Homo sapiens: one gene and its partners. The protein of the gene in region 3 purifies or fractionates together with the protein of the main gene of each other region. This does not show direct contact. Each region holds a gene or a part of one and is shown on either strand. Other genes may lie near its edges.

Evidence for each region.
Region 1: the proteins of XAGE2 (region 3) and EHMT1 purify together in Homo sapiens (affinity purification with mass spectrometry; 2 studies listed by BioGRID and IntAct, with this or other methods). This does not show direct contact.
Region 2: the proteins of XAGE2 (region 3) and ZNF644 purify together in Homo sapiens (affinity purification with mass spectrometry; 2 studies listed by BioGRID and IntAct, with this or other methods). This does not show direct contact.

Annotation. Positions count from the first base shown.
Region 1 is NC_000009.12:137,771,989-137,783,752, reverse strand, and holds part of EHMT1 (histone-lysine N-methyltransferase EHMT1), read right to left. Parts: intron 8,645-11,764; coding exon 8,501-8,644; intron 7,136-8,500; coding exon 6,909-7,135; intron 5,872-6,908; coding exon 5,698-5,871; intron 4,119-5,697; coding exon 4,036-4,118; intron 1,463-4,035; coding exon 1,356-1,462; intron 1-1,355. UniProt on the Homo sapiens protein: Histone methyltransferase that specifically mono- and dimethylates 'Lys-9' of histone H3 (H3K9me1 and H3K9me2, respectively) in euchromatin.
Region 2 is NC_000001.11:90,932,319-90,944,082, forward strand, and holds part of ZNF644 (zinc finger protein 644), read right to left. Parts: intron 8,992-11,764; coding exon 5,954-8,991; intron 5,773-5,953; coding exon 5,167-5,772; intron 3,213-5,166; coding exon of another isoform or gene 3,090-3,212; intron 1-3,089.
Region 3 is NC_000023.11:52,371,899-52,380,822, reverse strand, and holds the end of XAGE2 (X antigen family member 2), read right to left. Parts: intron 8,280-8,924; coding exon 8,154-8,279; intron 5,255-8,153; coding exon 5,232-5,254; 3' UTR 5,143-5,231; downstream 1-5,142.

The DNA of each region.
Region 1 (11,764 bases), on a different chromosome or scaffold from region 3:
GCCCCGTCGCTCTCTCCTTCTTGGCCCTAAGAAAGGCAGAGACAGGTGCAGTCCGAGAAGACAGGTCCTTCCCAGACAGTGGGGCCTGGGGGCCCCAACAAAACAGCCAGGCCTGCAGATCACCCTACAGCTGACAAGCCCCCGGCAAGCAAGAGCTACCACCAGCTTTTCAGTAGTTTACTTTAAATATAAACGAGAATCACTGGGCATTTGAGGAAAACCTTTAGATAAGAAAAACTAAAACACAGCAGCATAAAACTTCAAAATAACCATAATACCATCAGAGAAATAAGGGAAGAAAAAGAGGCTACTGAAAGAGGAACTATCTAAGAGCAGAAAGGAATTACTGGGATTTGAAAATGTGACCACACATGTTAAGAATCCCCCAGGAGCTGGAAGCTGAAGGTGAGAATGCTGCCTAGAAGGCAGAACCAAAAGACAAGAAAACAGACCACGGCAGGAAATCGGTCTGGAAGGTTCCACACCTGAGTTATGAGAGTCCCAGGACAGAGCTGAGACAGGTAGAAGACCTGGGCACAGAAGTCACACAGGAAATCCTCCTAGAACTGACAGGTGTGGATTTCTGCACTGAAAGGGCACAGCACATGCACCAAATGCCCCAGTGGATCTAAAAAGACCCACATTACAATGAGGTACAACTTCAGACCAGTGGGGTTCAAGGAAAGTTCCTAAAGTCTCCAGAAATAATAGGTCACACACAAAGGATCAGAAGTCAGACTGCACCAGACTCAAACCTGGCACTTGAGAAACAGGGGATCCAACACCGGGATCAGGGAAGGGGCGTCACAGGGGGACAAACAGCGTCGTGTGTCTGAACCCAGAGACAAGCGGGCAGCGTTCAGATGGTTCAGAATAAATTAGCAGGTGGCAGAGTCAACTCAACCAACAGAAACACAAGCCAGTGATTAACGACAGACACAACATACCCTGTAGACGACGTGGTTCAGCTTGAAAATGCTCACACGATCTGATCTAAACAAAATGGGAGCCAGTCAACGGGGCTGGGGGAGGGGCGTCCGTGCCTCTGCGAGTGCTTGGCTCCCCCAGAGGGACGTCATGAGTGTGAAGAACCAAAACCAAAACCAAAGAAAGCAAATCAAGAAACAGCCAAATGGCGGCATGCTCTTCTCAAAGGCCGTGGTAAATGCCGGAAGAAACAGCGGGAAGCACTGATCCACCTGCAGGACTCGGGGGCAGAAAAGCTGACTCTGTGCCCGATTCACAGCACTACGGAACTCTTACACTGGAAGAACCGCGAACGTGGTATGATTTTACTTTGGTAAAAATAAAAGAGAGCAGGTGAAGAGCCCTAGGAGGGCGCCGTGCCGCCGCACCTGAACCAGCATGTGGCAGATGTCCACGTGTCCAGCCTCTGCCGCGGCGTGCAGTGGAGAGCGCTTATTCTGGTGCTCCATTTTGAAGTTGGGGTCAATTCCGTCCACTGTGAACAAACACAGTTTTATTAATGATTTCAGATGTAGCCACAGACTCCAGCTCAGGACTGTCACGATGGCTGGCAAGCACTCACAAATGACCATCCTCCACATAAACAGCCACCTCGAGCCACGCCGGAACCCGCCCACAGCACCATCCTCTGGACTTGAGACTTGAGTGTGCTAGTCTCCTGCGGAATTGAACAGGCAGGTCCCTCTGTCAGAACTAACTCGGCAAGGCACGCTCTTCCCTTTACCACCCTGCTCTAACTCTGAGGTTCCTTCTGTGTTTCTGTGTGGCCTGGCCATGGCCGCCCCAGGCCCAGTGAGGCGGCTGACCAGGGCAGACACACCCTAGGGGAGCAAGCAAGGCCGGGGACAGAGGCCTGAGCATCGGTCAATTCCCAGGAGGTCTGAGAGGACGGTGAGCAACGGAGCAGTGAGGTGACCTTCACAGGTGTCCTGTGAAGTCCATGACAAAATGATTAAAACTGCTGGTCAACATAAATAAACCTTTCTTTAAAAGCAAATAGTTTCACTTCTTTTTACTTGACGTACTGTCCAGTAAAGGGCTTCTTAATCATCCTTTTCAACCCAGAGACGATGAACGTCAGAGAAATCAAGCCTAAAGCTATGAGCTCAGAGACCAAATTATCACTGGGAAGGCTCTCTAACAAGTATGCTTTTGCGTATTAGAAATCTAATGCAATCGGTTTGCCTGTTATAAAATACCTATAGCTGAAGCCTACTTTGTCCACACCACAGCTGCTGCGATCAGCACAGGTGAAACATCGACTGCCGTCATCACCACACATTCCAGCGTCATGACCACACATCTCAGCATCATCACCGCATATCCCAGCGTCATCACCACACATCTCAGCATCATCACCACACATCCCAGCGTCATCACCACACATCCCAGCGTCATCACCACACGTCTCAGCGTCATCACCACACGTCTCAGCGTCATCACCACACATCTCAGTGATGCCGTCATCACCACACATCTCAGCGTCATCACCACACGTCCCAGCGTCGTCACCACACGTCCCAGCGTCGTCACCACACGTCCCAGCGTCGTCACCACACGTCTCAGCGTCGTCACCACACGTCCCAGCGTCATCACCACACGTCTCAGCGTCATCACCACACGTCTCAGTGATGCCGTCATCACCACACATCTCAGCGTCATCACCACACATCCCAGCGTCATCACCACACATCCCGGCGTCATCACCACACGTCTCGGCGTCATCACCACACGTCTCGGCGTCATCACCACACATCCCGGCGTCATCACCACACATCCCAGCGTCATCACCACACGTCTCAGCGTCATCACCACACATCTCAGTGATGCCGTCATCACCACACATCTCAGCGTCATCACCACACATCCCAGCGTCATCACCACACATCCCGGCGTCATCACCACACGTCTCGGCGTCATCACCACACGTCTCGGCGTCATCACCACACATCTCAGTGAGATGCCGTCATCACCACACATCTCAGCGTCATCACCACACATCCCAGCGTCATCACCACACATCCCAGTGTCATCACCACACATACCGGCGTCATCACCACACGTCTCGGCGTCATCACCACACGTCTCGGCGTCATCACCACACATCTCAGTGAGATGCCGTCATCACCACACATCTCAGCGTCATCACCACACATCCCAGCGTCATCACCACACATCCCAGCGTCATCACCACACATCTCAGTGATGCCATCACCACACATCTCAGCGTCATCACCACACATCCCAGCGTCATCACCACACGTCTCAGCGTCATCACCACACGTCTCAGCGTCATCACCACACATCTCAGTGATGCCGTCATCACCACACATCTCAGCGTCATCACCACACATCCCAGCGTCATCACCACACATCCCAGCGTCATCACACGTCTCAGCGTCATCACCACACGTCTCAGCGTCATCACCACACATCTCAGTGATGCCGTCATCACCACACATCTCAGCGTCATCACCACACATCCCAGCATCATCACCACACATCCCAGCGTCATCACCACACATCCCAGCGTCATCACATCTCAGCGTCATCACCACACATCTCAGCGTCATCACCACACATCTCAGTGATGCCGTCATCACCACACATCTCAGCGTCATCACCACACATCTCAGCGTCATCACCACACATCCCAGCGTCATCACATCTCAGCATCATCACCATACATCTCAGCGTCATCACCACACATCTCAGCGTCATCACCACACATCTCAGGGCCACAACTCACTAGTTTTGCTTTTCCTTAATCTCTATTTCTGCTTGATTTAATAATCACATACCAATTCCTTTTTAAAAATTAGAACTTCGTAGAGAATAGTTCTAATATCTTGCGTAACTGGATATGAACACCATAAAAAGCCTCAACACCAGTGGGCAACCTATTCTCACTCATCAGAGAACTCGGAGACACAGAAACAGAAAACCAAAACGAGACCAGCCTCCTGAGGAAGGAGTAACAACTGCTCTCGGCTTCTTTCAGTGCCACAGGGCCGGCTGCATGTGCCCGGGCCGCAGGAAGGCACTTACCCAGCATGAGGAGCACCTTCTGAAGCTCCCCTTGCCTGGCGGAGAAGTACAGCTGCTTTGGGTGGAAGCGAAGCTTCTTGGGTCTGTGGGAAGCACAAGACAACAGTCAGCATGGGGCTCTGCATCCCACACATGAAGCTGAAGGCTGGAAGGCCCGGCGGACATCTCCCCACCAGCCCCTCAAGCTCATGGGGCTCCGCGTCCCACACATGAAGCTGAAGGCTGGAAGGCCCGGCAGACGTCTGCCCACCAGCCCCACAAGCTCAAGTGCAAACCCACCAGTCGAGATATCTCATGGTAAAAACTGCGGACAAGAAACTGCGTTCCCAGTCACCGCAGGAGAACACTACGCACTGTGAGGCTTTTACACAACACGACGACAGAACCAGCGCAGGATGCAGGGGAACCTCATCTACGCTCAGCACAGCCGGGACCAGCCCCAGCCAGGATGAGCCCACACAGCGTGGTCACGAGTGAGGGCACAGCTCGCACTACAGAAGATGTCCTGGGCGGTGAGAGCTGGGAACACTGGCACTTTTGCTCTGAAACCTTAACTCGATGACTAAGCTGATAACTGATATGGTGTGGACCTCTGTCCCTCCCAAAACTCACGTTGAAATGTGACCTCCAGTGTTGGAGGTGAGACCTGGTAGAAGGTGACTGGATCCTGGAGGCAGATCCCTCATGAATGGCTTAGTGTCATCCCTCCCCCTGGTGATGAGTGAGTTCCCGCTCAGTCAGTTCCCACAAGATCTGGTCGCTTAAGAGTCTGGGAGCCTCCCCCTTCTCTGTCTCTTGCTACTGCTCCTGCTTTGCCTTCCACCATGACTGTAGCTTCCTGAGGCCTCCCAAGGAGCAGATGCCAGCACCATGCTTCCTGTACAGTCTGGAGAACCGTGAGCCAATTAAGCCTCTTTTCTATATAAATCATCCAGCCCTGGGCATTTCTTTATATTGACACAAAAGCAGACTAACACAATCACCAAGGGATGGGGGAGAGAGTGGGGTCAGGAACAGTCTGGGGTCTGGTCAGCGAGCAGAGCCTGTGGGTCAGGAACAGTCTGGGGTCTGGTCAGCGAGCAGGGCCTGTTGGCGTCAGCAGATGGTACCGTCGCTTCAAGAGCAGGCTCAGAGGCGAGGCTGGAGGCAGACAGAGGGGAGATCCAGGGAGGAGGCACCGCAAGCCTCACTGCCACAGTCTGGTCTGCCTCCCTGGTGGGGCAATGCTGAGAGGAGGACGAGGAGGGGTGGGTTTTTGTGAGCTGTCGGGAAAGCCTGGAGGGCCCCTTGGCCCAACCCTCGCATTGCACAGATGGGGTGTGGCCTGGGAGGGAAACGGAGTCAAGGCAGCAGAAGCAGTGTCTGCTCTCATGACCTAAGGGCAGCTCAGGGCCAACAGCAACCAGGAAATGTTTGTCAAAGCTCACCAAGACCTGCCTCCTCACTTAGGACTTCAAAGGTGTCAGAGGTTGCTCTTACTATAATGCAGAGGACAGTAATTTACAATAATTTCCCAAAATAGTGTGAAAATATACGAATTATTCTAACGAACAGCATTAATCAAAAAGCTGAGAAGTGCTAAAGTGACACCATGGGGAAAAACGCGGGGTGCAGATTAAAACAGGCTCTGAGACATCTCTGAAATCACATGTCAGGTCTTACTTTTCCGAGTCGAGGGCGATGAGAGCGCTCTCCAAGGTTTCCTTCCCTGGTCCCTGGGAAAGGCCGGGAGTTGGCCTCCCAAGCCCAGCAGGTCCCGTTGGATCAAAGCCCTCGGGCACGTGGGAGGCTGCACCCTGCAGCTTGTCGTCCTCCGAGAGTGGTGGCCCGGCAGCACTTCAGGGGAGGAAATCGGGGAAAGGTTTATGAAAACACGAAACATGGCCTGTTCCGACTCTGACTGCCCGAGAGCGCTGTTTTCTAAGTGAGAGCTGCGGATTTGCTTACTGTCCGCTTAGTCCCTGGATTTAACGGTTCAGGATTCAGAACCAAATTTCCTGAGAAAACTAGGGCAACTTTTCCTAGACTTCTGGGCAGCGTGTTCAAATACACTCTCATGAATGAGCTTCAAGCTGAATCTATCAAGTCCACTGCCCACCCCAACAAAAGGAAATCCCACTGGAATTTTGATTCAAAGTGCATTAAATTTACAGGTTAATAGGAAGGAATCACCTTAACATGTCCACAATTTGAGTCTCTTTTAAATAATCTTCAAGGAAGTTTATTTTCTTTATATTAGTGTCACATTTAAGTTCTTTGTTCTGCTGGGTAGTAACAAGTTTTGTTGCTGTTTTGAAAGGGTCTCTTTTGTTATTTTATTCTCAGGCAGGGAACTGCTGCTAAGGAAGAAGGCAAGTGGCTTCTATCTCTTCTTATCAGATCCTCTTACTGACTCTTTTGAGCTCTAAAAATTTTTCAGCTGTTTCTACTGGACTCTTTCAGGAAGACAATTGTATCTGTCTAATATGAACACTTCTAATTATTTTAGACTTTTTTGTCTTCAGCTAAGGCCTTCAAACCTTAATACCACAGAACTCGGTCACAGACTGCAGCAGCCACCACTCGTCTATCGCTTGTGTACCAACAGGACTGTGCCATCAACAGAAACACCACAGAGCTACATCAATGGGGGTGCTGTGAAAACCGGTTCAAAACAGGCAAATGGATCTACATAACCAAACCGAAAGAGAGCAACGTATGCACAAATGGCAATAAATGAATTTCAGAGTCTTAAATGTCAGAAATCACCATAAGCATCAGCATCAGCTCAGAGACTTCTGGAAAAAACAGCAGGAAGCAATAACGTTGAGTTAACAACTGAAACTTTTTCAGGTGGACGACTGGAGAGCCCAGCCAGAGCCTGTGCCAGGTACCTGCCCGTTGTGGTGTCGGCCCTGCCCTCCAGGGCCGAGCCCTTCTCCTGCCCGGGGACTGGTGTCACGGTCGAGGTGGTGTCTGCTTTAGCTATCGTCACCTCTTTGGCCTTGGAGCTCTCCTCCCCACAGTGGGGACAATAGCTGGCGTTATTGACTCGAGAGGCACAGTCTTTGTGGAAACGGTGAGAGATGCTGCTCTCGGGCTGACACTCCATAAAATTACCCTAAAAATGGGAGGACAAAAAAAAATTTTTGTTTTAATTGGGGTTAATATTTAGAAAAATAAAGTACTACTAAACTGGCACCGCATCCCACATCGGGCGGTCTGCAGAGTGAGCCATGGGTCGGGGTGGGGTCCAGTCTTGGCCCCAGGCATCGTTAAGAAGGAGGAACGATGCTTCCCGTGGTGCTCTCGCCCCACAGAGAAGAAGCTGAAGCCAGACAGAGGTCACTTGGCTGCCTCCAACCCACCTAGGCCCAGGAAAGCTGAGGCTGCCCGCAAAGAGAAGGCCTAAAGAAGGACCCAGAAGGCCCCTACTCTGAAGGGCGGATAGGGACAGGGACAGACGACAGCACCTCAGGGCACAGCATCAGGCAGGTGGAGCTGCCTCAGTGCCCAGCAGTGCGCAGCAGATGTGGTTTGGCGACCCAGGTGAGCCTCGAGGAGGGGCACACAGCCGTAAGAACAGCATTTTCTTGCAGAAAGCCAGAGATAAACAGATGTAGCAGAACCAAAAAAAGGATGTTTGAAGATGGGGAGGACATGCAAGGTGTGAAGTCCAAAGAAAGTCTCCCAAAAGTGGAAGCTCTTGGCCCATGTTCGTAAAGGGGCAGCAGGGCATCTCTGGGTGCCTGAAGCTCACACTCAAACACTCACACACACAGGCGCACACAGACAGACGCTTACAGGCAGAGGCTCACACAGATGTGTGCGCGCACAGACACACACACACACACACCCTACATGCACGAGGATGCCCACACAGGGGAGCTCCAAAGGGAAGCAGCCCATTCTCGGGGGGCCCTGGGCACGGCTGAGCACAGATGTTTGACATTGAAGTAACTGATGACCCAAGATCCCAGCAGAAACAGCCCAGGGCACAGCAAGGTGCTGCCACCTCTCCCAGGAGCTGTGTGCTCTGGACACCCTTATCATGGGGGGTGAATGTCCTCAGTACACCCTTGTCATGGGGGATGAACGTCCTCAGTACAGCCTCCACCTGGAGTCTCCAGTGCGTCACAAGCCCCTCACCACTGCTCTCGAGCCCCAGTGCCTTAGACACCTTCACCCCCAACCCTCACTTCCCTCCTCTGGCCTGGAAGCCCAGGTCACACCGTCCTAGTCATCTCCAAAAGCGGTTTCCAGGCGGTAGGAGGGAAATGGGGGTTGGGGGTGAAGGTGTCTAAGGCACTGGGGCTCGACAGGGGTGGTGAGGGGCTTGTGAACACTGGAGACCTCCAGACGGACACCAGACCTGGGCCAGCTGCTGGACCACCCGACAGCAGGTGGACACAGGACAGGAACCAGCACCAGTGAGCAGACAGCAAAGCCTGCGGAGGACTCAGAGGCTGCCGGACTGGGCTCTTACCGCTGTGCAGAAGTAGCCACAGCCAGGACAGCACTGGTGCTTCACCATGCGGCCCCGGTGGTCTTCACACAGCACGAGGAGCGGGGCCTTGTTGGAGGGGCGCATCAGCTCATACTTGACCACGCTGTTTGTGCACCGGCCCAACTGCAATCAGACAAGACTGGTGGTCAATGTCAGAGTCACGAGAGGCCGGCATTCCCTCCCACCAGGCGCTGGGCAGTGCAGGCACACAAGAGCTGCTCAGCAGGTGTGGGCTGACTGAGCCGAGCCCTGCAAGGCCAGCTTGGCTTTGCAAGCACTTATCGAGCACCTGCTACACGCCTCAGCACGGGGGACAAACAGGGAGCCCAGAGAAGGAAACGCCCATCATCTGCACAAACTGCAGGAGGCAGCGGCACATGAGCAGGTCCAGTGGGCCAGGCGCGACCACACCCACCAGATCCAGGGGGCCAGGCGTGCCCACACCCACCAGATCCAGGGGGCCAGACGCGACCACATCCACCAGATCCAGGGGGCCAGGCGCGACCATACCCACCAGATCCAGGGGGCAGGCGTGCCCACACCCACCAGATCCAGGGGGCCAGGCGCGACCACATCCACCAGATCCAGGGGGCCAGACGCGACCACATCCACCAGATCCAGGGGGCCAGGCGCGACCATACCCACCAGATCCAGGGGGCAGGCGTGCCCACACCCACCAGATCCAGGGGGCCAGACGCGACCACATCCACCAGATCCAGGGGGCCAGGCGCGACCATACCCACCAGATCCAGGGGGCAGGCGTGCCCACACCCACCAGATCCAGGGGGCCAGGCGTGCCCACACCCACCAGATCCAGGGGGTCAGACGCGACCACACTCACCAGATCCAGGGAGCCAGGCGTGCCCACACCCACCAGATCCAGGGGGCCAGACGCGACCACATCCACCAGATCCAGTGGGCCACATGTGCCCACATCCACTCACATGCGCCTACCAGAGGGCCGGCTGCTCAACTCTGGCAGAAGTCAAGGAAGGTTCTGGGGTGAGAGGGGTTCTGGGCTGGGTATCCAGGAAACATGAACGTATACCTGGCAGGACAGTCCAGGCCATCACAGGCCAGCAGTGGGCAGCGGTACAATGAATCTGTGGGAGCCCCAAGGATTCTGGGGCAGCCAGAGGAACCTGCACACAAGGCAAGGAGCAGGACACAGAGTCTGGGGCCTGACTGGGGAACATGGTCACTGGAGGATTCTGAGAGGACCAGGACTTGAAGGCGCCTGTGGAGGTGGAAGCAATGAGGGCACCCAGGATGCCAGGCACTCTGCAGCACACCAGACAAAGCCTTACAGGTTTGCTACGGAAAGTTCTCTGATAGCCAATAAGAAAACAAGAAGTAGCCCCCCCAAAAATAAGCAAATAATTGAGTGGCATTTCACTAAAGAAGAACTACAAATGCCCCCCAAAGGAAATTACACAAAGAAATTCAACATAAGCCTCTGACATTCTTCGTATTCGGTCTGGCACACTGCAAAGCTGGTATCTGTGGGGTCTGCAGAGATGACACACCATCACTGTGAGTTCTGTCCAAACTTCACAGCAAGCAACTTGGAGACATGAATCAATTACAAATACATATTCTTAAGACTCCACTTGAAGATATAATTAAGTGCACAAACATGTATCTAGAAGGACCCAGCTTTTGCAATAACAGAAAAGTAGGAACAACCAACCTGTCTACCTGCAGAAGAGTGGCTGCAGGGCACGCCCAGGTGGCATAAATGATCTACCCTGAAGCCAGCAAGAGACTTCTCGATGCCCAAATGAGGCTGCATTAGAATCACCCAGGCAACTTTTTTAAAAGACAGTCTGGGCCCCACCCCAAACCTATGGAACAAGACCTGAAAGGCGTAGAACCAGGGCATGTACATCCTGAAAAAATGCCCCCTCCACACCACCACCACCAAATGCTTCTGCAGTGACTCCCTGGTTCAGGACCAGCGGCTGCAGGGCACTTGTACCTACTGACTTTGAAAAATGTTTACATTAAAGGAAAAACAAGTTATTTTCAAAAATTCAATGTGGTTATACACATAGAAGTCTAGGAGAACATACAAAAGTACTAAGAATGATTCCCTCAGTTTTGGAATAAGAAGTGATTTTACTTTCTTATTCATGCATGTATGTAGTATCTGGATTATTTTACAATCGGCATGCATTATTTTTACAATCATAAAAACGATAATGCTGTATGATTCTGGCTCTGTGCTGTGTAAGAAGGAAACACAGAAGGGAGCTGCGGGGTAGGGGGTCCAGGCAGAACGGCAGGAGAATGTAAGGAAGGAGATGTTCTGGGAAGGATATATCAAATAAATGACAATGGGATCCAGTTAGGGTTGGGAAAAAAGAGATAAAACAAGGAATCCTTTAACAAGGTGGGAAAAACACAGATGCACTGGGGTGGCCCCACTGAGGTCACCATGGGTGGGAGGGGCACCCTGGGTTCACCACAGCAGAGTACAGATTCACCGACTGCTGACCGGATCCTGAAGGAGGGACCAGAACAAGAAAGGAGCCCACCACAGGGAGGTGCTGTGCTTTCAGGACAGAAAGCAGCTGAAACAGGTACTGACTTCACAAAGTAGAGATAACCCAAACCTGCTTGCCTGAAGGTGGGTCCGCACCGGCAGAACCCTGGAAGGCTAAAGAATCAGGGCCAGCTTCGGTGGCAGGGGCTGAGCTGGTGTAAATACAGAGCTGGCGAGGCGGAGCCTCAGACGAGGTCCATGCAGCTAGGCACCCCACCTGGCGCAGGTGAGGGGTCACCCTCTGCAGAGGTGGCCACAGAGCTCACTATCTACTCTCCACACAAGCCCACCGCTACAAAACGGTTTCCTATTTTTTTAGTGTCTGTTTTATTAAATATTCTATTAAGAAAACTTTCAAAAATAGAGACAAACGTAAAATGTATCCCCATGTGCCCATGCCTAATTTCAAAAATTACCAGTATTTTCTCTTCTCGTTCAAGCCATCCCCTATAACCTTTTGTGCTTGGAGAGGTGTGCTGGTATATTTAGCAAAGTACCTAGGGGTAAAATGATGCCATTTTAGCCATAAATAACTCCATATGCATTGCTAACAAATCATACTTCATATAACCTTAGAACCATTATCAAGCGGAACACAGGTAGCACTTTCTCAGCGCAATTTAATACCCAGTGCCCACAGGCTCTGCAGGGCCCACAGGCTCTGCATGGTGGCTTATTAGGACACAGTGGGGTGTGCA
Region 2 (11,764 bases), on a different chromosome or scaffold from region 3:
GAGTGGACCACACAACTTAAAATCTACATGAATTAAGACTGCTTAAACTAGAAATACACATACTGGACATGGTTAGGGAGGCTTTATTCCTATCTACTTTCCCTTTACATTGTTCCAATTTTGTGATATACTAAGGTAAGATTTTATAAAAATGAATTTGCATTTTATTCATTAAAAGATCATGTGTTCTTGAAAAATGATGCCTGTTACTCATATGAATTAATGAATCACTTATAATAACCAAGTGGAACCTTCTAGGGCCATAGGTTTTTAGGAACACTGCTTTATAACAGTGATATTGATATGGGGGATAATCAGTATGTGGAGTTTGTAAATACAATACAGAATTCTCTATCTGGAAAACAGAAAAGTTAATAAAGCTTGAAAAAAAACTTCTTAGTTGGCATGAATAAGCAGCAAAGACATCTGTATAGCTCTACTGATCAAGAAGATTTTTTTTAATGAGGGAAAAAATGTTTCAGAATTTCCAAGAAAAAGAAGCATTAGTTTTTAAAGTTTCTCAAAAGTGGCTACTGGGTGTGGAAAATAAGACCCTAGGCTTTCTTCAGTTTCTCATTTTCCTTTTCTTTGCCTAGGACTGCCAAACACACGCTTTCTATTTCCTAGTACTTCTAATATTTTGGTAGTACTTAATCATATTTTTAAAATAACACCCTCTTTTATTCTTCAGGACCTAAACATATTCCCAGTCATCCTACATTACTTTTCTCTCTGATAATGAAGATTTTTTAGATAATCTTCATAAGTGCATTCTTGGTAAATGGAGATTTACTACCAGTTATTTATAAGTAATTAATCCTGTGTTTTGCAGAATTTTCAGATGAAGTAAAAGCATTTTTTTAATGGACTAATAAAATCTGGACTGGAGATATCTTGCCTTATTGGATATTTGCATAATCTGCTTGAATAATCAGAATGGAACATTAACTCCTCTAAAGTCTAATTTAGGCCTAAGCACTTCTTGGATCTCTGCTCTTTTTAATTAGACTCTTATTTATTCAGTCTTCACCAGAATAGTCCCCATTTTAAACCCACCTTCAGGCTGGGTGCGGTGGCTCTCGGCTGTAATCCCAGCACTTTGGGAGGCTAAGGCGGGCAGACTGCCTGAGGTCAGGAGTTCGAGACCAGCCTGTCCAACATGGTAAAACCCCATCTCTACTAAAAATACAAAAAAATTTGCCAGGCATGATGGCATGAGTCTGTAATCCCAGCTACTCGGGAGGCTGAGGCAGGGGAATTGCTTGAACCAGGGAGGTGGAGGTTGCAGTGAGCCGAGATCGCGCCACTGCACTCCAATCTGGGTGACAGAGCGAGACTCCGTCTCAAAATAAATAAATAAATAAATGAACAAACCCACCTTCATTTTAGAATTTTCCATTGCTTATTTTTATTTCAATTTCTTATTTTAAAAATAAGAAATTCAAAAATAGACCGCCTGTGTAAGGTAGAGAATAGTGATTAAAAACAAAGATTAGGTAAGATAGCCCTGATTTGAATTACAACCTTGCTACTTATTAACTGTGTAAGTTTGAGCAAATTAAGTTCTTTAAGTCCTAGTTTCCTATAAAACGTTAAGAGAATTCCAGTACCTACAACTTGTATGGCTGTTGTAAAGATTAAATGTTATGCATGTAAATTGCATAGCATAGTGCCTGACACATAGTAAATGTTCAATAAAAGTTAGCAAGTATGGTAACAATAATGATTTCCTACTTGTATAGTCTCTTATTTTTATTGTTCCCCACCTCTAATGTCTGCAATCACTTGCCAAGCCTGATAAAGGTGAGGGTATATAAAAATTATAATCTCAGAGTAGGAGGCCTAATCCAGTAGACTAAAACTCACCCCACTCCTCTCTTTTTAATATAAATTGTCAACATTCATCCCTGGTCATTTGTATATCAAGTTAAGGAAGAATGCAAAGAAGCAGAAGAAAGACACTAGTATAAATATAAGTGGTTTTTTGAAAGCAAGAACATATTGGATCTAAGTTCTAGGACATGAGGAAGAACAAAAAAGCTGGGAAAACAACTAGAAGAAAGCAGGAGGCAGTGATCTAAAAAAGAGCAAGAGAAATAAAATGATTGGAAAGAATTTTAGGCAAAAGAATTTATGTAGATCTATGTCAAAAAGAGGGTATATTTTAAGATGTGAGGGAAATGAGATTTGCTGAAGCAGGGTAGCTTAAAAGACTACAAATGAAAGTGCAAAGCATTTTGTAGGTTATAAGAAGCGTATTACATATAAGTAAGCTAATAAAATTTTCACAGATGAGCAGTATTAAGAGGTATCTGCAAGGTTGGGCTAACCAACCAAAAATAACACAGAAATGTGCATGTTAACACTTATGTGCATAGCTAAATTTATTAATCCTTAATATATTTAAGAAGTATTAAAAGAAAAATCTATTCGCTTGTCAACACAAGCCATTATTAAGGCTCACCCCTTCAAAGATCTAATCTATAGACTAATGAAAATTCATTAGTTTGCTTAGTTTCCTAATCAAGTCTACATTTTGAAATTTCCCTATAATTTCCTTTTCTAATAAAGGATTTCCCCAAGCTAGAACTACAATATTTTTATGCTATGTTGCCCAGGCTGGAGTGCAGTGACTATTCACAGGCACAATCATAGCACATTATAGCCGCTAACTCTTGAGCTCAAGTGATCCTCCTGCCAGCCTCATGAGTAGCTGGGACTATAGGGGCACACCACTGAGCCCGACTAGAACTATAAAGAGAGGTGTTTTACTGGAATCTAAAATCAATTTAAAAATCAAAAATAGTATTCTAAAAAATAAATGGGATTAAGGTAGACTCAAAGTTCCACACCTCTTGGGTTAATTTTTTTTCCCCCAAATTAAGTCAATAAGAGCCAAAAGAAAAAGATTAACTTGCTTAGAATTACATCTAACAGTTTACAAGTTGCTGAAATTCAATGGGTATTCAGACTCAAATGCAGCTTACCAAAGAAAGCTATAAATATGATCTGAATTAACACCAGTCTGGTGGGGAAAAAAAAAGTGTATTGTATCAAACAGACTTGCTGTGATATCTGTTCAAACATACCTGTACCAGTCAAAAGTCCAGCACTCTTCTTTCGTGCATAAGCGCGTAAGTGGTTGGACAGGCTAACAGCACTTGTAAACGTCGTATTGCAATGCACACATGTTCTAAGCTTCACAGGCATACCTATCATTCAAAAGAAAACTATAATCCAGTTCTCACTTCAAAAAGTGAAATTTTCTTAGCTTAAAGAGTGTAGAAAAGCACCACAATAAAGATGGTTTTCAAAACGTTCAATGAAATAGGTTAACTTAAAATAAGGAGGGGAAATTAAGTTAACTGTTATTAGTTTGTAGTTAGTATTTAGAGTCAACTCATGCTCTTTGGAAAGGTAGACGAGGAGTGACTTGAACCTTTGAGCTCCTCTGGATATACACCTATTATTACTTTCTTGCAGATTTCTGTGTTACGCAGATTATTTCTTAAACCTACTACAATACAATCCTGTGATTTGAACAACACGGTTCTGTTGAGAAGTTTCAAAGCTTACAACATTACCAATAAAAAGAATTAAAAAGTCTAGTTGACAAAGTGGTAATTAAAGTGTTTTACCCACAAAACCGTAAAAGTCTCAATACTAAATTAGGCTTTCTGATGAAGGCTGGGAGAAAAGGTGGTAAAACACACCACTGAACAGCTGTTAGACACAACATTTTATTTAGGGTATTTTATGTTCATTACTCTGAATGCGCAATCAATAATGAAAGTTAATGATTTAAAGTTTTTTGCTAAAATCTTTGTGCTAAATAAATGATCAACAAGCTAACATCTTAGTCATCACAGGAAAAACATGTTCAAACAATAAGAAACTCCTAACTTCTCAGACAATCCTCACTCCCCCAACACATTTCAACTGGTTTCTTCAGCATTACTGTGATAGCCACAAATATGCTTTCCATCTCTGAAGTATACTACCCCTTGGTCAACACAGCTAACACATCTTCCCTGCGTTTTACCCTTCTGAAAAAATATTGAAAGCTATTGACTTTCAGAGACTCTTTATTCGAAAGAAAAAGCCGGATTAAACAGAAGCTCATACAAGATAAACTGCTTTCCAGACCACTTACAATACAAAGTTATCTTTCCTTAAATCAAAACTGCATTACAACTATTCGGGATATCACAATGTCTGCCCCAAAGCAAATAAACAACATTACTTTACAGTAATGTTAGTCGTTATTAATCCATTAACTATTACCTCTGACACATTCAACTTAGAGCTCTAATCATGAGACCATTTACATAAACCTTCAACATTAACCTTCAAAAAGAAATCTAGAAAAAACACTTAAAATTTTTCTAGTCTAAAAGTATAAACCACACTTGGCAATACTGAATAAAGTTTGGCTACTTTATCTGCCACATTATTTGCCAATACATACAAAATATTCCTTTCAAAAGGAAAAAACTATTGGTGCACCAGCACTAAGCTAAATCATCTGTCCTGTTCCATTAGAGCACTATCTTAAAACCTAAAACCCCAAACAAATATGTTTTATGTTCACAACTGTTCTCCAAAACCAAACTATTCCGCAATACAATGAGGAATTGGAGAGGGAGATGTTTCTTTGGGTTAATCACAACAGACACCAATCCATTCAGCTTTAAGAGTCTGTTTTGTTTTACCTAAGCAGTGGAAAAACCAACAGCTAAATCTTGAAAACATGATCACCTTGGAGAACTGGCAAAAATATGACAGAGGTATGCCTTTTCAATAATGCTATGCTTTTGAACATCAACCTCCCATCCACAACCATCCTCCAGCCAGAGCAAGTTTTATTTTTACAGATCAGCTTTTTGTTTGTTGTTTTTATTGTGTGTGTGTGTGGTTTTCTTCTGCTTTTGTTCTCACCTTACATTCAGACCAAGAAAAGAGGCACAGAGAACTCAGTGCTAATGAGCATCAATTGATGAGTTATACAGAAATGACAGTAGAATAACCAATCTGTGCTCTGTAAAAAAAAAAAGCAGCTTAAACAGGAAGATTGTGAGAAAGTATTTTCCACATAGATTCCATTAAAGAAGGCATAATTGAACTGCATTTAAACTGTGTATAGCATAGTCATAAACGTCCTCTTACCTGAGTGCATAGTCAAGTCCATTTTTTGTGGCTGATACATCAACGGACTATCCTCATTTAATGGAAGAACGCATTTCTGAACGAATCTCTTTCTTGCTGTCTGATTATGGATCTTTTGAGGAGAAATAGCAGAATTCCTTTCTTCTCCCATCCTTTTATTTTTAAGAAGTTCTATGAGTGTAAGAGACTGATTCTTTTTCCCACTGGGCAGTTCTGGTTTTGTTTCATCATATTCATTTAAGAAATTCAGCCCTTCTTCTTCTGATGCAGACACTGACAGAGCTTCAGTCTTTAGGCCATTACGGTATGCTTCAAGAGGTATAACATTTTGAGATATAAAGTCATCACTTGATGCAAGTTTTTGAGCTACAAATGGTCTGGGAATAATACGACGACTGTTCAATGCCTTTAAGATTTTTTCATATTTTTCTTCATTTTGCATCATCTCATTCAGAACACAGATTGGAGATTTGTGAGCATCCCATTTCGTCTTTCCAAGTCTTTTCAAGTGGCCTCTAACATGATTTGATAATCCAATTTTAGTATCAAACCAACCACCACAGAGCTGACAAGTGTGTTCAGAAGTGGTTTCAGACTTCTCTATAGCTAGAAAAAAATTTTTAAGAGTAATATCAGACTTTCTTATATAAACTGACCACCCTAAAATGAGTTAATTCTGAAACATAAAATTATGATTCTAATAAAGACTAAATTCAAAAAAAACTTTTAAATCTTCAGAATTAGAACACAGACCTATCAGCCCAAATCATCCCCATGGAGAACTTACCTTTTCTAACTCGTTTAACAGGTGTTCCTGTGCCAGTTCTTTTGAAATGCTGCATTTTGTCACTTGTGGCTATTTGTTCTGGTGATACAACATGACGGGCTTCATAGCTTAATCCTGCTCTGTGAAGATGCCCCCTGACATGATTTGATAACCCAACACCTGTTTCAAATGTTGCTGGGCAGTAAGGACACGATTTCTTCTCAAGAGACAAATCAGTCCAATGAAAAACAGAACTATGCTTTGACAATGAAGCATCTGCAGTTTCTAAATGCTGAGGATCATGTATCTCATGCAAAAAGTTGTTACTTCCAGTATCTTCATAGTATTCAAAATAAAAGCCATCGTTTTGGTCATAACTAAGAGTAGCATTTTCTCCAGGCTCCTGACCTTCCACTTTGCTCTTAAATAAAGGGAATAAATTTACATGCTCTTGATTAATATCACTATAGGTTTCATCTTCTATGGCCTGTGTAGTGTAGTCTCCTAACTCAACATTATCCCAGGAACTTTCATCTTCTGTTTCATAACTATCTTTCTTTTCAGCAGAATTAAGTTTTTGCAAAACGACAACAGTCATTTTATGCAAAAAATCTGGATAGCTATCCAAGTCTTCCCCTCCAACAGAACTTTCCTTCTTAGATTCCTTAATTACTCTCTTTACAGCTACACGTCTGTGATCTTTGAAGCTTTCAGGCCTTTTGGCGTCAGGCTTATGAGGGTCTGAAATAAAATTGTTGTGAGAATTACTTGATGATGAAAACAGGTGTAAAGAATTTAATGAACTAGCTTCTTCTTTTTTGAAATGCACAGGATATGATTCACCTGATTTTTTGATCATCCTATAGTTTTCATATTTGTGTCTATACAAATAGTGGCTATTTGCCTTGGCATTAGACTTTTCTTTTGCTGCTTGATGGAAATACTTAGGTTTTTGGTCAACGCTGCTTTTAATTGTAACATTCTTATGAGGAGAGCTGTTTTGATTGCACATGTTTACACCTGATTGGGCAATGCTTTTCCGAGCTTTCTGTATTCTGTGTGGCCGCTTATGAATTTTTGAAAAACTACTTGATTGTGAGGTTGATCCAAATGTTCGCTTCACATCTTGTTTTAAAGCAGAGTTCTTTGGAAATGTGGTTGACTGTTGTTTAGTTAATGTTTTAGTGCTATCACTATCTACAGGTTCTTCAAGGATGTCATTTTTTCTTTTATCAAGTCCAAGAGGACTACCAAATGAATCAACACATGATGATGAATGCAAGTACTCCGTGTGCTTTTTTAAAACACTTTTGGCTGAAGTAGTAAAAGGACACATCTTACATATGTAGGTAGCTGATTTTTTGGATGATCCTACTACAGAGTCTTTCATGAAAGTCTTTTTTTGTGTTTTTCTCTGGGCAATATCAGAAGTGACCATAGGGCATTTTACCACTGCCCCATGTGCAATGCCTCGATGGCATTCCAATTCATTTTCTGTCACTGCCATGAAGTTACACTCTTCACAGCAGTAGTACCTTTTATCTTTTTCATGGGTTTTAGCATGTTGCACAAATGTTTTAGGGCAATTGGTACCAAACACACACTGAGGACACTGTAATCGTGCACTTCTTCCTTCATCCTGAAGTTCTTTCAATTCACGAATTTCCTCCATCAACTTCTGTCTTCTCTCCTGGTGAATAATCATATGTTTTAGAAGTGAATTGCGATCTCGAAATGTCCGTCCACATTCTCTACAAGCATATGGCCTTGGGACATTAAGATGGCGAAAGTGACTATTCCCATCTAAATGATACATCATATGCCTGTGGAGGTGCTTCTTCTCCCTAAAATTCACATTGCACTTTGTACAGGGGTAGAATGATGGCTCTTCGGTACTGAAAGTAGCAGGTGACTCAGAATCACTCTCTTCACATTTCTTTTTTAAGGTATTTGAAAGAAAAGTGCTAGTATGAACAGGTGAACTCTCTTCTCCACACTTATCTGGGTTATAAATTAGATGTTGGAAGGCATCCACAGATTCTAAGTCTTCATCAGTTGATTCAGGCTTCACTTTTGATAATGCATATTTCTGTGAGTCTACTGCTTGTAGCTCTTCATTTTGTTCTAGAAAGTCTACTTCTTGCATTTTTGATTTATTGGGTACACAATTAGAATCACTAAAGCAATCCTCGGTATAACGAGTTATCTTGCTTACATCCATTTTTCGCTTTCTTTTTTTTTCTAGACCTATTTTAGAATGAGGTGGAGCTTTATCTACTGTTTCCTCATTAGTCATAAGAAATTGAATGAACTCTTTTTGGGGATCCCAGTTTGTATCATTTTCTGACCTAAATCCATCTGTACCTGAGGAAATTCCCGTTACTGTATTGACACAATCATCTTTCACCAATAAATCTTCACCATCCTCACCCACCTCTACTTGATTTATTAAAGTGCCATCTGACTTTATATTACTCCCTACTGAATTCTGAATGTCACAACCAACTGAAGCAGAGGTAGGTAGTTTTTTATTGGAATGGGTGGGATTCTTAGCATGTGCTACATCTGATAACAAAAATAAAACTTGGTGTTGACTTGCTTTCTGTGGTGTAGACAGCTGAAGATCAGCTGCTACCTTCAAAGTTGAACAAGATTCTGTTGTTGGCTGATCCACAGGCTGTCCAGTGGTTAATGAAACACTGCCTTTATTCATATTGGAAGTCTTAGTTAAGGAGGAGTGTGAAACTGGTCCATTAACAGCAGCTCCTTTAGGCAAGATAAAGTTTTCACTAGAAACAGTAGGAGCACCAGCATGTATAAATAGACTAGACTGGCCTCCACTTAAGGCGTTTTCAGATTTGTCCTTTGACAGTTCTTCAGGCAGAGTCAACGTATTATTTTTCTGAAATGATGTTTGACAATCTTTTGGCTTATGAACTCCGCTCTCTTTGTCTGAGATAAAATTGTTGTCATCTAGGAGTTCTTCTTTAGCACCAGTAATATCGGTGTTTATCTTCAAATCATCCATATTGTTGGCAAGCCCATTTAACACATTTAGTCTAGAAAATGGAAAAAAAAAATTTAGATTTGCATGAAAGAAAAAATACTATTAGAATGTATGGAGAGTTGAAAGTACATATTTTTATTAGTTTAATTTTCTACTCTTTATATTGAGATTCTAATAATTTTCCAAGAATGAAAGAACACAAACATATTGAAATATTTAAAAAGCACCTCAAAGGTTAATATTGTTCTTCATGCTAGGCAACAACAACAGTCCAATACGTCATGTATACAAAATGTCTAGGGAAAAGCAACATACACAAACACACTAGGGAAAAGCAGCATACACACAGATACACATGTATACACAGACTCAAAAACAATATAAATATGCTACAGACTGAAAAAATTTTAAACCTCACGTGGAGATTGCTAATACAAAGAAAATTCTTTCACTTAAGTAGGTTTATCAGAGGTAGTCACTCTATTCTAGAGAACAATATAAATTATCAAATATTGCAGAGAAGTAAAAGATTTGTCACTTATAAGTTCATTCCTGAAGGTAACAAAACACCATTCAGTAAATAACTTTATTGAATGAACATATTTGCTATCAACATCAATGTTTTATGTATGAAATAGTCCTTTTTAAAAGACTGCTTTGCTCTCAAGATGCTTAATGTTCTCCCAACATTCTATCAATTGTAAAAATGCTTTATTCATAGTTTTGTTCATTCCTTATTCAAATTAACCTTAACTATAATTTTAACTTTAGTAAAGTTAACTAAATTTTAGTAAAGCGAATTTTAACTTTACTAAAGTTAAAATTAATGAAGGTTTATGTCAAACTTTCATATGTGGGGCCTCAAATTCTAGGCATTCTCTAAAAGCAGTTATCCCACTTATGATCTGGTGGTCTAGTGCAATGGCCTAACACATTTTACAATAGAATAGCATAAACATATGTTTTAAATTTATTTCATATAAAATGTAGATAAAACTTTTCTAGGCATTTTTGATAAGATATTTAATCATTATGAGAAAAAAGTACAATATTTTTAAAGGAAACAGTATTTCTGAATGTTTGGGGTCCATTCACACCATGACTGTAATGCCTACCCCCACTATGAAAAGTTCCCTTGCAACCTGTTTTTTTCCTGCTCTTAGAAATGGCCACATTGGAAGTATCTGCCTTCTTCAAAGAATGTCAGCTCTTTGAGGGCTGGGAATGTAATCTAGTCACTATCATATCTCTAGAACCTAGTACATCACTTGCCATAGGTGCTCAGGCAATATTTGTTGAATAAAATACTGAATAAGTATTGGATTAATAAAAACACAATTTCAAAAATCAAAGTAAAAGTTCCTAAAGTGTACAGAAGAAAAACAGTTTTGTTCCTATGAAATTTGGATACCCCATTCAAACACAAGTTCCATCAGGTTCTGATTTATTAACTCAGTAATTATAATAAGGTCCTCAAAATATCCAGTAATTTTCATGTACAATTTAAAGAACCTGCTATTTGGCAACCCCAGGTATTAACTAATTGAAGTACTGGCATCATAAGCTTCCATATTTCTTCTCCTTTTTTGCAGTTATTCTCCAAATATTTCCTAAGCACTTAGTAGTGCCATGCATTGTTCCTGTATTCCAGATATAATGGTAAACAAGACAAGTTAGGTTCCTGCTCTCAGATAAAGAATGAAGCCTGTATATTTTTCTTTTGCAGTATTTTTAATTTGCATAACAAGTAATACTATTTTAGGGCAACAGGACCTTACAATCTAACATTTAGAAATCAAAACATGTTCAATATAGTTCAATATTTCTACTATCCTTTAAGGGTACCAATTTCATGCTTTGTAAAACATTAAATCTAATTCAAGAATAATAAAATTGTTCTTAGGCTGGGCGCGGTGGCTCACTCCTGTAATCCCAGCACTTTGGGAGGCCGAGGCGGGTGGATTACAAGATCAGGAGATTGACACCATCCTGGCTAACATGGTGATACCCCGTCTCTACTAAAAATAAAAAAAATTAGCCAGGCGTGGTGGTGGGTGCCTGTAGTCCCAGCTACTCGAGAGGCTGAGGCAGGAGAATGGCGTGTACCCGGGAGACAGAGCTTGCAGTGAGCCAAGATTGCGCCATTGCACTCCAGCCTGTGCAACAGAGTGAGACTCCGTCTCAAAAAATAAAAAACAATAAAATAATAAAATTGTTCTTATATTTTTCTTATTTTATAACTTAGAACAAGCACTTATAATCTGATCTTATTCTTTCCATAAAATGTTATTTAATACAACAAATACCTATTACCAGTATCTTTGACATTGTTTTTTATACCAACAATCATTTTTTCCACCCCTCGTAGGTTTTAGAATTCTGTTTTGAGATTGGCAAACTTCTGTGGTAATAAAAATAGACTTCCAATAAGATCACATTTAATGATATCACTCCAAAATGGTGCTAATGCATCACCCAGCAGGAGTCTCTACATCACATACACAGAAGTTAAAAATGGGCAGCACATAAACATGTGTTAGGAAAGGGTGTGCAAATGTCAAGGGAAAGAAAAGCAAGCCTTAATGCTACACTACCATTCATTCCTGATATTTCTCATTAAATTAGGTAGAAAACATAAAACGCTTCAATAGCAACAATCTCATAAATCTGAAACGAACGACAAAAAACTAGCTTGAAAGACAGTTACTTTCCTTTCCGTTCCCACTTATTATAATCACAGAGGTGGACAAATATATGCTAAGTCAATTTGAAAGCCTATATTAGTTTTTCTCAACAGGAAGCAATGTTGCTAACGAAGTGGTAAA
Region 3 (8,924 bases):
GACAACAACCTCAAGGCCCTTCTGCCTAGGAGGCTATAGACTGTGCCCGCGGGCTCCTCCTCACACTCACTCACACTGAAACTTCTGGGACAACTGATCTGACAGCAGGGCACATGGGCAACAAGGGGTGTACACACAGAGTCAGGCACATGCAGGGCCAGCCAGGGTTTTCCCGCTGTCCCCAGACCCACATCCACAGGCTATTTCTAGTAGAAAGAAAATGACTTAAGAGATCTTTTTTTTTCTCTCTTGCCAAACCATTCTCAGGGGGCCCATGGAAACATCGCCACATGAACCTCACTGTCCAGGAAGCTTCTTTCACAACATAGACCATGGAAAACCCTGGCAGGTATAATTTCCACAAGCATTTGAACAACAGGCACTCCCATCTCTTCTGCTCTCCCTTGTATGGCTACTGCTAGAATCTTGATAAATACCCGTCCCAGGATCCCTTGCAGAGGGTGGTGTGCCACAGCTTCCCAGGTGATGCTAATAATATGCACCTCTTAAAAGATTTGGGAAGTAGAAGTCATTTTCTTATTTCACCCCAAAATGGTCAAAGGTGTGTATGGTCAATACGGGAATGTTTGGGCAGGTGTGAATGGTGAATCTGAAAATGCTTGGGAGGTGTGAATGGTAAATGGAATGTTTGGGCAGGTGTGAATGGCGAACATGAGAATGCTTAAGCAGGTGTGAATGGTGAATGTGGGAACGTTTGGGCAGGTGTGAATGGTGAATGCTGGAATATTTTGGCAGGTGTGAATGGTGAATGTGTGAGTGTTTGCAGTGGCTTCAGGATTCTCCTACTAATCATCTGTCTCAGGACTTCAAGGGGCAGATAGGTTTGGCAGACGTCTCCTGCAGTTGCCTGAACAGGCATATTTCACTGTACTCCAAATCTAGTATGATTTCCATGATAACTGTGTATTTTATGAGACTTGATTATTCTTCCATACTATTTTTTTACTGATGCTGAACACATATAATTTAATAACAAGTGACTTCATGATAAGAAATTTCCAATACTATAATACTCTCACAAAATACCTCATTCAAATCGAGGAGGGGTTTTGGCATTTAGTGAGAGTAATATGGTATTGGAAACAGGATGAGAGTGAAAGTGAGAAGTAATTCTCTCTTGGTCATGAATTCAGGTTTTGAAGTTCTCTCATCACTGCTCAGTTGCTCAGATATAGACATCATTACATGGTTATTACATTAGTAGAAGAAGCAGGAGTGCTAGCTTATAAAATAGATACAATAATACCTCCACAAGGGCACTAAAAGTATTTCTATCTGTTTGTTAAGGCTGCCATCAAAAACTACCACAGACTGGGTGGCTTAAACAACAGACATGTATTTTCTCACAATTCTGGAGGCTACACGTCTGAGATCAAGGTGTCAGCAGAATTGGTTTCTTCTAAGGCCTCCCTCCTTGCCTTGTAGTCTGCTGTTTTCTCCCGGTGTCCGCCTTAGTCCTCCCTCTGTACATGTGTGTGTCATCATTTCCTCTTCTTATAAGGGCACCAGGCAAATTGCCTTAGGACCACTCTAATGACCCCATTTCACTTAATTACCTCTTTAAAGACCACACCTATCTCAAATATAGTTACATTCTGTGGCACTAGGGGTTCAGACTTCACCATATGAATTTTGAGCAGACACAACTCAGCCTATATGGTACTAAAGACAGTATTAAAATAAGGCTGGGCGTGGTATGAATTTTGAGCAGAGACAACTCAGCCTATAACAGTATGACTGTTAGTTTTATATTAACACTGTTTATTTTTGAGACATAGTGATTCATTCAGAGGACAGAAGCAATCTGCTGGGAATTATCAGAGGTTCCCAAACCCAGTCTACCCGTGTCTGCCCTGGCATTCTCTGTTGCCCTTCTACATACAATGCTCTTAACTGAAGCCAGCCCCTCACCTCAGCTCAGGATCCATACCCCCCACCTTCCCAGGGGCTTTGCTCCTACAGTGATCACTCCCCTCTCCTGAACCATCAATGGCTCCCTCTACATTGGATCATTCCCAAAGCTAAGGGGGAACTCACCTTCTTCTCCCATGTCCTTCTGTAGCTACTAACATGTTTATCTGCTGCCCTTCAAAGGAAAACTGCCTCAACTTATACAACTAACTTCACTGGAGTAAATTTTCAAAGTTACCTAGAAAGGAAAATGAGCCAGAACAGCCAAAACCATTCTGAAGTATAACTTTGGGGAACTCACACTACCTAATATCAAGAGTCATGTTAATTCTATAGTAATCAAGAGAATGTGGTATTGGGGAAAAATCAACAGATCAGCAGGAAGTCCAGTAATGGACTCACAGACATGATAAACTGATTTTCAGAAAAGGCACAAAGGCAATGGAGAAATTATCTTTTCGAGAAACTGTCTTGTTTTACTCCTGCTACTTGGCCACCACATTCATTGTTTTTATCCCCCTGGGTCCCTTCCCTGTGTTTCTCCTTTGCACTTCAGCTGCTCTTCTGTTTAAGGGTCTTCTGTAAAGGTGCCCTCCTCCCCCCACCAACAGTGTGACAGCCTCCACAGCAAGTACCACATATTGTTGGTTGGTCTTCTCATTTCCAGCATCCAAGACATTTCCTATAACATGGCAGTCATCAATGCATATCTGTTGAATTAAATTATCAGTCTTTTGTAATGACCCTAACAGAAAAGCATCCCCTCTATTTAGGAGTCATTATTGGAGATGGTATGTTTCTAGGCACCTTACATATGGTTTTGTGTCAGACACTATAGGGCAAAGGCTCTGCCATGGTGTCTTGGAGATCTTGCAGGTCACCACATAGGACACGTAGGCAAAGCCAGACTGCAGGCTAACCTGAATGTTGGAAGAATACCTGGATTCCTTTTGTTGCAAGGGGAGATAGGCAGCGTGGTGGGAGCTGCCACAGGTATTTTCTCACCAGCTCCCTATCTGGTTGGAGGTTGACACGAGACCATTCTTTATCCATTTTCCTAGTTTCCATTAAGCACGGGCCTTTCCTCATCTTAGGGTACAACTGTGGAGTATAAAACTGCTCACTGTCTTAGGGTACAGCTGTGGGCTCCTCACAGGCAGAGAGACCCACCGTCTGTGCTGTCATTGTATACCTCCGATTCAGTGTCATACTGTGGGACTAGGGACACAGTGCTGACACAATGCTGACCTTGCTTTTACTTTGCCTGCAATCAATCAACCATTTGGACCCATTTGGGCTCATTGTCTTCTTATTGGTCAAATCTATGGATGTGTGACAAGCCAAACTAACAACGGCAGTGGGGCTCCTTGCTGCCGTTAGCCACTACAGGTGTACTGCTTGAACACTTGACACACTATTGTGTTGTGTGGTGTTGGCTGACCAGAAGGACTTATTCTTCACGGCATCACACACAGCAAAGGGCACAGTGTTCGGCACATTCCATTGACTTAGGGTTGGCCTTGTCAGACTGCGTTTATTCACAAACCAACTTTAGAATTGATGTCATGTCTGACACCAGCTACCCTGGTTTTTAATTAATATATTTATTTAAATTAAGTAAGTCTCAGAAGTCAAATTCATTTAAAAAGGTAACTTGATACCCCTACTTGAAATTTAAGAGCAGTTATTACTTACTAAACATGTGGTTGTAAAGGCAAAGGGAATGAAAAAAATTGAAATTTTAAAAGAAGAAATATAATAAACCAAATTTATCTACAGTGTATTGCCTAATCCATATGTTATTTCATTTATTCTTCATAACAAGTATTTAGTGTAAATATTCTAATTCCTACTTTAGAAATGGGGACATTGCCTCACAGATTATAATATCTTGCCCACCCCCTCAAGGCCAGTGTGTAAGAGGCAGGATGGAATCCCATGGGTATTTCATGCCATAGCCTATAAGGAGACAGTGTAGGTAGGACCCGTCATCTTGCTTCAGCAAGTTGCCCTGGTTCCTTGCCGCTTACTCCTACCTAGGCCCTAATTCTTTCATCTAGCTCCATAGCCTAGGGACTTCTCACATATTTTGTGGCAAATGGAACACCCTTAGAAAAGATGCAGATGAGGGGACACATAGGGTGAGGTATGCAGGGAGGGGCAGGGAGTTTCCATGGCCTCTACGGGCATGCTACCCTCCATGTGTTCAGCTAGCCAGAAGCTCTCTGAACCGTGTCCTTTTGGGTTTCATGGAGGTTTTCATTATGTAGGCATGACTGATTAAAATGTTGGCTTGCCATTGGTGAACAACTTAACCTTCAGCCCCAACCTTCCCTGAAGTTTGGGCATGGGGCTGAAAGTCCCAACCCTCTAATTCCTCATCCTAGAGCTCCTAGGGACTGCCAGACATTGGTCAACTCACTAGCATACAAAAAGACATCACTTTATAGGAGTTGTATGCCAGTAAGCACAGTCAATGACCAAATATACATTTCACCATACCACACTTGTGTATCAGCTAACTCAGAATACAAAATATCAAAAATGATACTTTTTTTTGAAACAGAGTCTTGCTCTGTCATGGAGGTTGGAGTTGCAAGTGGCGTGAACATGACTACCAGCATCCTCGACCACCTGGGCTCAAGGGATCCTCCCACCTATGCCTCCAGAGTAGCTGAGACTATAGTTGCATTCATTCATTCACTCATTGTAGTAGAGAGGGGTTCCTATATTCCCCAGACTGGTGTCACTTTCCTGAGCTCTAGCAATCCTCCTACCTCAGCATCCCAAGGTACTGGGATTACAGGTGTGAGCCATTACACCTGGCCACAATTCTCAATAGTATCAAAATACCTGGGAATGAAATTAACAGAAGAGGCTGGGCACGGTGGCTCATGCCTGTAATCCCAGCACTTTGGGAGACCAAGGCAGGCAGATCACGAGGTCAGGAGATTGAGACCATCCTGGCCAACATGGTGAAACCCCATCTCTACTAAAAATACAAAAATTAGCCAGGTGTGGTGGAACGTGCCTGTAGTCCCAGCTACTCAGGAGTCTGAGGCAGGAGAATTGCTTGAACCCAGGAGGCAAAGGTTGCAGTGAGCCAATATCATGCCACTGCACTCCAGCCTGGCGACAGAGCAAAATTCCATCTAGAAAAAAAAAAAAAAGAAAGAAAAAAAGAAATTAACAGAAGATGTGCAAGACTTCTTTGGAGAAAAGCTTAAAACTTTATTAAGATATTTTAAAGTAAAATATCTAATATAAAAACAGTTTGTGTTGTTTCAGCTTATCTTCCTTTAAACCTGTGATTTCCCTTCACCTGTAATAGAAACATAACAGGTGGAACATTACTAGCAGAACTGTATTTAGATCACATTAAGATATGCAAATGACACCAAAGTTTTTGTTTCGTACAGTGGACTAAGACCATAAACCCAAGAGTCACCCTCTGGCTTACATTCAATTAGACCTCTGTGGAGACTTTGGAGATAAACTTCCAAACATATACATTATTAATATTTTTTAAACACACCCTGCTTTCTAGTGCTACAAGGAAACCAAAAGACAGTCCGAGGTCAGAACACATTAAATCAAGTGAAACTCTTAAAAAGGGATTTAATGTATAAAGCAAAAATTGTGTATAATTTTACTAAAAATATAACAAATACACACAAAAAAACTAAGAAACAAAGGAATTTATAAAAAATGTACAATTTAATATTTTGGCTTGAAACTATGGTCTGGATGTCAAATAGGCTCCTGGAAATAGTATGAAAACTATCTTTTAAGAAAAGAGTTAATGTCACATTAGAAGCTGCATATGCGTGGTGAATAGAAAGGACAGTATTGCATTTGTTTTTTCCTCTATTGTGCCAAAGTGCAAAAATGTTGCTTTGGGTTAGTTTACCCTTCTGTAGATATTAAGGTATGGTAAACATCTGTCCCCAGTTTTCACCTATAGTCCTGATGTTAATACAAATATCTCTTTTTACACTTGAAAAAATTCCCCTTTGTATAATTAATTATATGATCGCATTACTTTTAATCTATCATTATCATTATTGATATCAAAATATGAAAGAGGTATATATCATGAACAGTATGGCACGAAAAAAAAGAAACGGAAAGGGAAATGGAGATGTAGAGGAAGACATCTAGAATAACTAAATATTTATTTCTAAAAGTAAATATTATCAAGGGACAACTAGCAAATTTCACAAGTTCATGCACAGTCTTTGTGATGAATAGATATTCAGGTACTACTGGGATATATTTAATAATGCATGCATTCCTAGCTTATCAACCATTTCATCTATATTCCGAAAATATTAGAGTTTAAGAACGTATTCACTTTCAGCTGGGCGTGGTGGCTCACATCTGTAATCCCAGCACTTTGGGAGGCCAAGGCAAGTGGATCACCCGAGGTCAGGAGTTCGAGAACAGCTTGTCCAACATGGCGAAACCTCGTCTCTACTAAAAATACAAAAAATAGCCAGGCATGGTGGTGCATGCCTGTACTCCTAGCTACTCAGCTGAGGCAGGAGAATCACTTGAACCTGGGAAGTGGAGGTTGCAGTCAGCCAAGATCATGCTGCTGCACTCCAGCCTGGGTGACAGAGCGAGACTCTGTCTCAAAAGTAAAACAAAAGAAAACAAAAGAATGTATTTACTTTCAGTTATACTACATATTCAATATCTGTGTCTTCTTCATATTCTGTATTGTGCTTTTCCCATTTTCTTCAAGACTGGAGAAACAAATAGATAGTCTATTCATAGCTATTTTTAAAATAAACAATGTGTTAAATGTATTACTTTTGGATTAGTTTTCCTAATCCAAAATCCAGGTTCCTACCTGTCTGTTATTAAGTACCTCTTTCCTTTTCCATTAGGTTTATTCTGTTGCTCTTTTATTATTATATTGATTATTACTTTATCATGTAATTTGCTATCTATTCTAATAAGATGTGCATTTAAGGCTGTGATCTTCCTAAGAATACAACTGAGGCTTGTTCAATCGGCTCCTGAAAACTATCTTTTAATGTAAATAGTTTAATGGAATGGTTCAGCAGTGCAGAGTAAAACATTTAGGTAATTTCTTCCCTAAACATGGAGTTCTTCCTTTAAATTCAGAAGCTCTTCTCATTAACAGTCAGCAATTTATAAAAAAAAATGTGTAAAAGATACTTATGTTGACTACTCAAGAATTAGTACATTATAGTCTTTGAACTTTAAGTCCTATCATCTGATGTCTCAAGGCAGAAACCTGTAATATGTAACCTATGATATGGTTAGAGGTGATTATATCATGTGTGTCTTTATTACACACAGTAGCTCATGAAGACTGACAGGAGAGCAAAAAGCATGCTTAGCACAGGCATCTTACACCCACCTTGAGCATGACTGACCTACATGCATTCTCCCTACTTCATTGGCCACAGAAAGTAGACTGTCTCTTGCCATTTTATTATTCAGTCATTCAAGGCTTCACGGTGGGAAGGCTTTAAAATACAATTATTCTTTAAAAGCCAGATAATTCAGAATTTGACAAAATCCAAGAACACTCATTCAAGTCTCCATGCTGGAAAACAAACATCAAGCAGAGTGCCTGCTCATTTTCTTAGGAGCAATGAAATCTCAGCTCAGATATTGTAATTGGACTGAAGCTGATTGTTAGGAAAAACAAATCATGGGAATCAGAATATCTTTCTATTCTCTCCAACAGAACCAGAGCATGCAGAAATCAGCATTGAAACGGATTTTAATACATTTGATCTGCATTCACCATTTTCAATAACAGCAAAGATGGGTGTAGAATTTATGGAATTTGTCCAGATTCTCACAAATTGTCATAGAGCTGCTACTAGAATCTCCTTCAGTACTCAGCATATTTCACACAGTCTGGTATTACAAATGCATTATGTATTTGTTAAAAGCAGAAATTAGAAAAGAATCTGAAAATTGTTAGCTGTTGGTTATACTCAGAAGTAAGAAAATGCTGTCATATTTGATGATTCAATATGGCTTTGACCCAATTTGTGTCTGTATCTGAGAGCATTTAAGTCTTGCAGTCAGGCATTGGGATCTGAAGTACCTTTCAAAGAAAGTGTGTATTTGAACACTGTTATTAAAGTGGCAGTAATATTATCTCTCTATGATCAAAAGTATAATATTGTAAAAAATAGAAATCACATAACTTTGTGTCTTAATGAATAACACACCTGCTTCTGGCATTTTAAAGTGCTCTGCTTTTGGTAGAATCTTCCCCTTGACATCAGTACCACCTTCACATCCATCCCCAGTCTTTGTCTGACATAGCTCCTGGAGATCGGCTTCCAGGTCAGGCACTAAAAAATACAAAGGTTATTGAACTTGAGTACAAAAACATGAAGTATAAATAAGGAAGTAATAATATTCTATTCCACAGAGTTATGACATAAAAGCCTGTAGGCTAGTGTGATAATAAATGTGATGCAAAGCTGTCACACTTTTGTTTTCCTGTATTATGAATTCCTATTTTATTTGTTTTTTAATACAGGGTTTCACTCTGTCATCCAGGCTGGAGTACAGGGGTGCAGTCACAGGTGACTGCAGCCCTGACCTCCTGAGCTCAAGTTATCCCCCTGTCTCAGCCTTGTGAGAGGCTGAGACTATAGGCACATGCCACCACCAAGGCTAATTTTTGTATTTTTTTGGCAGAGAAAATTTTCTGGTGTTTCCCCATGTTTCCCAGGCTAGTTCCTAACTCTCAGGCTCAAGGGACCCACCAGCCTCGGCCTTCCAAAGTGCTGGGATTACAGGTGTGAGCCAATGTACCTGGCCTGAAATCTAATATAAAATGACAATCTAAGGATAAATCACACTACACCTTCATTTCCTATACTTTGCCAGTGTGCATTATAAACAGTGAGTATCAACTATGTAAGATATCTGAAGTTTGCTGCATGAATAGCATTTTAATAATAACTCAAAGATAATTTTCTGAAAGACTA